Linked DNA regions of Homo sapiens. The protein of the gene in region 2 interacts with the protein of the main gene of each other region in a pairwise test. Each region holds a gene or a part of one and is shown on either strand. Other genes may lie near its edges.

Region 1 (3,500 bases), on a different chromosome or scaffold from region 2:
AGCTACTTGGGAGGCTGAGGTGGAAGAATCACCTGAACCCTGAGGTCGAGGCTGCAAGTGAACTGTAATAGTAAGAGTCTCCTCCTAATCTTGTGCATCCTTTCAGAGAGAGAGATGATAGATATTCAAACAAATACATACATATATATAACATATTTATATATATTCTTTTTAACATAAAAGTATAGCCAGGTGTGGTGGTTCACTACTAGAGTCCCAGCTACTTAGGAAGCTGAGGTGGGAGGTTCACTTGAGGCCACGAGTTTGAGACCAGCGTGGGCAACATCTCTTGGGGAAAAAAAAAAAAAAACCCACCATAAAAGCATTCTATAACACGTAATTCTGTGTTTGTCTTTCTTCTCTTAATACATCTTGGAGATCAGTACGCATCAGTATATAGAGAGCTTCCTTGTCCTTTTTCAGGGCTGTGTAGTATTCTGCTGTATGGCTATACCATGATGTTTTCACTAGCTTTCTACTGCCTGACATTTGGGATATTTCCTGCTTTTGCTATTGGACACAAGGCTCTGATGAACAGCCTTTACTATATTTAATTTTTTTGTGAGAAGTTTAACTGGAAGATAAATTCCCAGAAGTGGGGCACCCAGTTAAGGATATGTGACTTTGTCATTTTAACACACACTGCCAGATCACCCCCTATAAATGTTGTGCCACGTATCCTCCCACCAGCAGGGGAAAGGAGGGGCCACCAAGCAGTCTCACTTTAGTGCTTTTCTCTCCTTTTTACCAGATGCGAGCCACCCCTCTGGCTGCTCCTGCGGGTTCCCTGTCCAGGAAGAAGCGGTTGGAGTTGGATGACAACTTAGATACCGAGCGTCCCGTCCAGAAACGAGCTCGAAGTGGGCCCCAGCCCAGACTGCCCCCCTGCCTGTTGCCCCTGAGCCCACCTACTGCTCCAGATCGTGCAACTGCTGTGGCCACTGCCTCCCGTCTTGGGCCCTATGTCCTCCTGGAGCCCGAGGAGGGCGGGCGGGCCTACCAGGCCCTGCACTGCCCTACAGGCACTGAGTATACCTGCAAGGTACGTGCCCATGGGCGGCTGTCCCCCAGCACCACAGGAGGCCTGGGAAGGAGGCCTCCAAAGGATTGCCAGGGTGCAGAGGGGTCCTTATGTTCATTCATTCTTGTGTTTGTTTAGTGGGGAAGCATCCAGGGAGCCCCTGCTGGACTGATACTAGAGAGGTAAACCAGAGGTCGTCCCAGTCCTGGGGGAGTTCACAGCTTAGGCCCTACAGTGTGATAAATGCTGCAGGGGTAGAACTTAGGGATCATGGGCGCAGAAAAGGCCGAGCAGAAGTTAGCCAGGTAGAAGTGGGAGATGGGAGTTGCAGGCAGGGGGAACAGCTGTTCAAAGGCCTAGAAAAGTGAGGGGATAGCACTTTAGAGAATGAAAAGGACTTCTCTGTGGCCAGAGTGGAGAGGATGTGCAGAAAGGGGCAGGAGATGAAGGTTGGCAGCAGCTGGTCATGAAGGTGTTAACAAGGGGCCTCCACTGGGCTGTGCGGAGCTACTGAAGATGTTTGCACAAGAGAAGGGTAGGGCATGGTAGACATCAAAACTCCTGGGACCTCGGAGGTGATCGAGCCTAACCTGGGGCCATTTTACAGATAGGAAGACTGAGATGAAGACAGGAGAAGGGCCATGCGTGAAGTCACATAGCACTGGGCCTGGCTCCTGGGGTAAACTAAGGGGTAGAAAAGTCTGAGGATTCCTGGCAGAAACCAGGAAATGGACAGGGTCAAGGCCCCTGAGGGTCAGCCCATGCAGGACACTGACAAGTGACAGTCCAAGAAGACAGAGATGAGAATAAAAAGTGTAACAATAGGTATTCACTGTGCACCAGGTACTATGATGATTGCTTAGTGTGCACAATCTCTTTTAATCTTGACACAACCAATGAGGTGGTTTCTATCATTGTGCCCCTTTTATAGATAGAGGACACTGAGACTCAGAAAGCCATGGTTACTTGCCACATGACAGAGCCAGGTGGTATCAGAGCTGGGATTGGGCCCAGGAGGCTGAGCCCAGAGAGTCCTGTGCCCGTGCTAGGATAAGCGTTTCACACAATCAGGGCAGGCTGCCCTGGCAGGCAAGCATAAGGAAGATAAGGGGGACCTGGAAACCCAAGGGAGAGTAGCGGGGGCCTGGGTCCCTTGGGAATGCACAGAGAAGCAGAAGGACTTAAGCCTCCTCCTGGGGCAGCAGCAGAGCTTTGCTCTGTTGACGGAGATGCAGTGAACAGCGGGGCAGATCCAGACAGGGTCCAGCCCCTAGCTTCACCTGGCCTCTTGTGCACAGATCTCCAGCGCCCTTACCAGGTGCCCTAAGGAGCCCAGAACTCTGGGTCCCCTTCCTGCAGCATCACAGGCTCTTTTCCACTCCCGCTGGGGAGGTGAGTCCATGATAAGAGGAATAACCCAAGCAGGCTCAGGAGAGAAGCGCCATGCGTTCACAGGGCCCTGATTCTCAAGAAACATTTGGGAAAATCCACTGGAACATACTCACCCCTATGCCAATGTGCACCATGGGTGCTGAATGGTCATTTCCACACTTCCTCAGCTTTTCTGGTCAGTGTGTAGAAAGATCAAAATCTTGTCTTTGTAAATGATCAACTTATTCATTAATTCAACACAACTTCATTGAGCACCCGTATTTGCCATGTACCATGCTGTGGTTAAAAAACAAAGTTCTGTTCTCATCAAGCTGACGTTCTAGTGGGAGATACAGACACTAAACAAGCGAATAAGTAAAATACGTGTCAGGTGGCCGGGCGCGGTGGCTCACACCTGTAATCCCAGCACTTTGGGAGGCCGAGGTAGGCAGATCACCTGAAGTCAGGAGTTCGAGACTATCCTGGCCAACATGGTGAAACCTTGTTTCTATTAAAAATACAAAAAATTAGCCGGGCATGGTGGCAGGGGCCTGTAATCCCAGCTACTCGAGAGGCTGAGGCAGGAGAATCTCTTGAACCTGGGAGGTGGAGGTTGCAGTGAGCCGAGATCACACCACTGCACTCCAGCCTGGGCAACAAGAGCAAAACTCCGTCTCAAAAAAACAAAAAACAAACAGGAAAACCCTTATTCCAGCATCTTTCTTGGTTCCTTTGCAATGCTTATCAGCATTTGTCAATATTTGGTTTCTGGGCATGTTTGCATGGCCTCCCAGTGGGCACCGGAGAGCAGAGCCCATGGCTGTCAGTCTAGCTGGACATGTGGCTGGCCCGTGCAGGCCCAGGGCCAGCATACTGAATGAATGAAAGCGTGGGTGGGCAAAGAGGACGGGAGCTGTGACGGTGATGAGCATCAGGTGCCTTCTGCATCATCCGCCCTTCCGGATTCCTCCTGCTTTGTGGGTTATTTTTCTGTTTGGGTGACCTGTTACTTTTCAGTTATCCGATGTTTGAGGCCATATAGCGTAGCAGTTAAGAGCACAGACAAAAGGCCGGGTGCAGTGGCTCACACCTGTAATCCCAGCCCTTT
Region 2 (3,500 bases):
CTACTGCCTAAGGCTATCTCCGGGCTAACTTGTATGTACACAGAGATAAAGCCACATCCCAGTGGCTGGACCTCATGCAATGTTGGGCCTCCTATCTGCCCCCATGAGCAGGCCACTCCCTTATTTGCACCACAAAACCACCAACACCAAACACTTCTGGTCTAGGCTCCTAGGTCTTGCCCTGTCCTATGTTGGCTCAGATGTTATCCAGTCTGGTCCCCGGCTCATGAGTCCAGATCATACATCTATCCAAATGTATAAATACATGCCTATGCTTGTATCTTCCTAGGCCCACACAGCACAACTAGTGTCATGGCCCACCCCAGATATTAAAGGAACACAAGAGATTGGAAGCCCCAGAGGGAACCTGCTTCACCTGTTCCACTCCTAGATAACTTCTTCCTGACGTCCCAAATACCTAAACTCACCTGCACACTGCTAAGTCTGACAACCCCCTTCACATTTTTCTGACTGTTCTGCAATTTAACCCTGCTGGTCACAGTCCCCAGTCAGAGGTGATGGGCAGTCTTCCTACCCATTGTCCTGGGTATAAGCATGACTTGGGGCCAGAAGAGTGGGACTAAGGTCTTACAATATGATCACACCAGGAAAACTAGCAGATACTTCAGAGAAAGATCCGAGGTCCTATCAGCCCACGTAACACAAAAAACAGCAGCACTGGAAGCTTTCACTGAAGGGCAAAAACCCCTAACTGCCAGGGTGGCAGATAAGAGACTAGCTCCAGATGATATGCCAGCTTCCCAGAAGGAGTATATGCTCTCAGAGGGCATAGTGTATCCTGCTGGACGTGGATAAATATTGCAAGGCAAAGTAATCCAAATAGCCCAATGGATGTACCACCAAACAGAAACCAAATTCTACATGTGGTACTCTGAACTCCCTAGGACTTGGATGTCCCCTGTAGCCTGGGGTGACCTTGTTTTAGGAGCCCTCCTGCCCACAAGTAGACTTACATACTGCACTGGCTATGTAAAATTGGTACAGCCTATATACAAGTATATTAGCTCTTTGGATGGTGAACCAAATGTTAGGGAGTGAATTTTGAAGAAATTGAGTTGAGTGCAAAAAGTTGCTCCCAGCAAAATGTCATTTGTCCAAATAGTTAACACCCACTGGGGCAGAAACCATCAGGGCACCCCACCCCTCACCACCCACTCAGCCCCACTCACCTCTGCAGCACCTAGTAATCATATGCAAGAAAACTCACCCTTACTCTTTTTGATTGACCACCCCCAGCCTGACCCCCAATGGAGCAGATCACTCAAAATTAATCTTCCCCCACTACCTCCTCTCGGCATTATTCAACAGGTGGGCCCCTGTCCTATATCTACGTAGGTCCCCAGCACCAGGCTCTTTCTCCTCCCCAGAAGTCAGGGAGTCCTCTTCTCAGTGGGGCCCTCAACCAGTGGCTTCCCTCGCTGCCTATGCCTGCATAAGTAATACACCTTTGAATTGCCTGTGATCACCGGGTCAGGTGTGGTGCGTTTTGGCATCCAAGGCTTTTAAATGGGAGAGAACAGCAGATCTGGTTCCTTTCACTGGAATATTGTTATGGTCCAATTCTGCAACCAGCTGACTTCATTACTACCTGTGAACTGCACCTCCAGCTCCTCCAACTGACCCCATACCCAGACCCTTACTTGGGCTGTTTCCTACCAGACACACCTGCTCTGTTAAGAAAACCATTATTGAAATCACCGGCTGTTAATTCCTACTCAGTCCTTAGTAGCCCTGTGAGCTGGAGCAAGTTCTGTAGGCTTTCTGTGACTCAGTTTCATCACCCATAAAATTATGATTACAATACTTACTTCATTAGGGTGTTGCAAGGGCCTAAAAAACACTCTATGTATAGCTCAAAGTACAAGCCTGACAACAAAGGAAGTTTCCAGATAATCGCTCATCAAGGGGCAACTCGATTTTCTGCTTCCTCCAGAAAGCCTTCCATGCTGATGTCCATCCACTCTGATCTCTCCCTAATCCAATCTGATTGCAGTTTTGATCAGCACCTCACTGTTGACCATGGATTTCTTCTCCATTACAAATGTGTTCATTTTGACTTCCAAGTAAGAGATAAAGGTCTTGGAAAGAAGTGATTGCATTTTACCTGGCTCTCCTACTGACTTTCTGTGTCATCTTCCTCTTAATTTTGGGGAGACTGAGTTTCTTTCTCTGGGATGGCAAATACATGGCCTATGTGCCAACACTTTCCCATCCTGAAACCTCAGGACACACACCAGTGTTCTCATCTTCTCTCCAGAACCTGGGTCCAGACTCACAATTCTTCTTAACACAATACTTTGGACAGTGTCTACTAACTTATCTAATAAATATGTTTTGAGTACTTCGTAGGTACCATCCCCCTTGGTCAGTTTCTAGAAGTTAAAACGTTGGACATCTTGTATCTGCACTTATGGAACTCATCCCTTAGTGGAGAAGAAAGACAATATGCAAATACACAAATAAGAAAATATCAAGTAGTGACAAATATAATGATGAAAATTAAATAACGGTGTGTTAGTGCCTGGGGAGGAGGCTATTTTTTAGATCAGGTATCCAGGGAAAGGCCTTCTGAGGTTTCTCCCTTGATCTGGGAGATTGGGTGTGGGCCTAAGAATATGTATTCCTAACATGCAAACGTAGGAAATTTGGGAAACACTGGCATAGTGAATGAGGTGAGGGCATAGTCAGAAGACCTAGGTCTAAATTCCGTCTCCTACATTTATGCAGCTGTATGACCCTGGGAAAGTTATTGAAATTTCTCTCTCACTTTCCTCCTCTGTAAAATTGGAATAATATTACTGATCTCAGGAGGTTTCTTATCAGGATTGAATAAGATCAAGTATTTAAAATGCCTGGCACATAATAAGTGCTCAATAAAAGGTAGGCATTGTTTGCCACAATTAGGTCTATCTATTTATAACCGTAATCTTTTGTTTGAATCACTCAAGAGACAAATCCAATAAATGCCGCTAGGTAATACGGTGTCTGCGTGTTGGCTTTTGCCTCATGAAGCTCTTCCTCTTGAAAAATAAATTTTCAAAAGACATTCCTGTGAGCAAGAATGCCCGAGTCTAAGGAACAAGGGTCATCCAGTTCTCTAGTTTAGGCATGTTTGAGATTTGAAAGGGCTTTGGCCTAATTTCCTCTCCTATCAAATGGGCACCAGGCTACCTGCCCTTTTTCACTCATGGGGGATTTCTGAGACTCAGAGGGATAAGAGATTTGCAAAGCGTGAGACACAAACAGTTGCAGATACAGACAGAACACTTGCTTTCTCAGACCGGCAGGTGCATACAATGGCAAGGCCACCTGATACACCAGTCCTGTTCATTTGGAAAAGGGACAACTCCTTCACATTCACAAGCTGGGCTGGTAAGTGAAGAATAAGAAGAAAAAAAAAAGAAGTCGGCAGGAAGCAGCCTCTTCAACCAGCAAAGAAACCGTTAGAATCCATCCCTGCGCCCTGATGCCAAAGTTCC

What was found.
Region 1: the proteins of LMO2 (region 2) and TRIB3 interact in binary tests that used the Homo sapiens proteins (3 or more experiments, as listed by UniProt).

What each region holds. Positions count from the first base shown.
Region 1 is NC_000020.11:387,260-390,759, forward strand, and holds part of TRIB3 (tribbles homolog 3), read left to right. Parts: intron 1-751; coding exon 752-1,042; intron 1,043-3,500. UniProt on the Homo sapiens protein: Inactive protein kinase which acts as a regulator of the integrated stress response (ISR), a process for adaptation to various stress. Inhibits the transcriptional activity of DDIT3/CHOP and is involved in DDIT3/CHOP-dependent cell death during ER stress.
Region 2 is NC_000011.10:33,882,077-33,885,576, reverse strand, and holds part of LMO2 (rhombotin-2), read left to right. Parts: intron 1-3,300; exon of another isoform or gene 3,301-3,393; intron 3,394-3,500. UniProt on the Homo sapiens protein: Acts with TAL1/SCL to regulate red blood cell development. Also acts with LDB1 to maintain erythroid precursors in an immature state.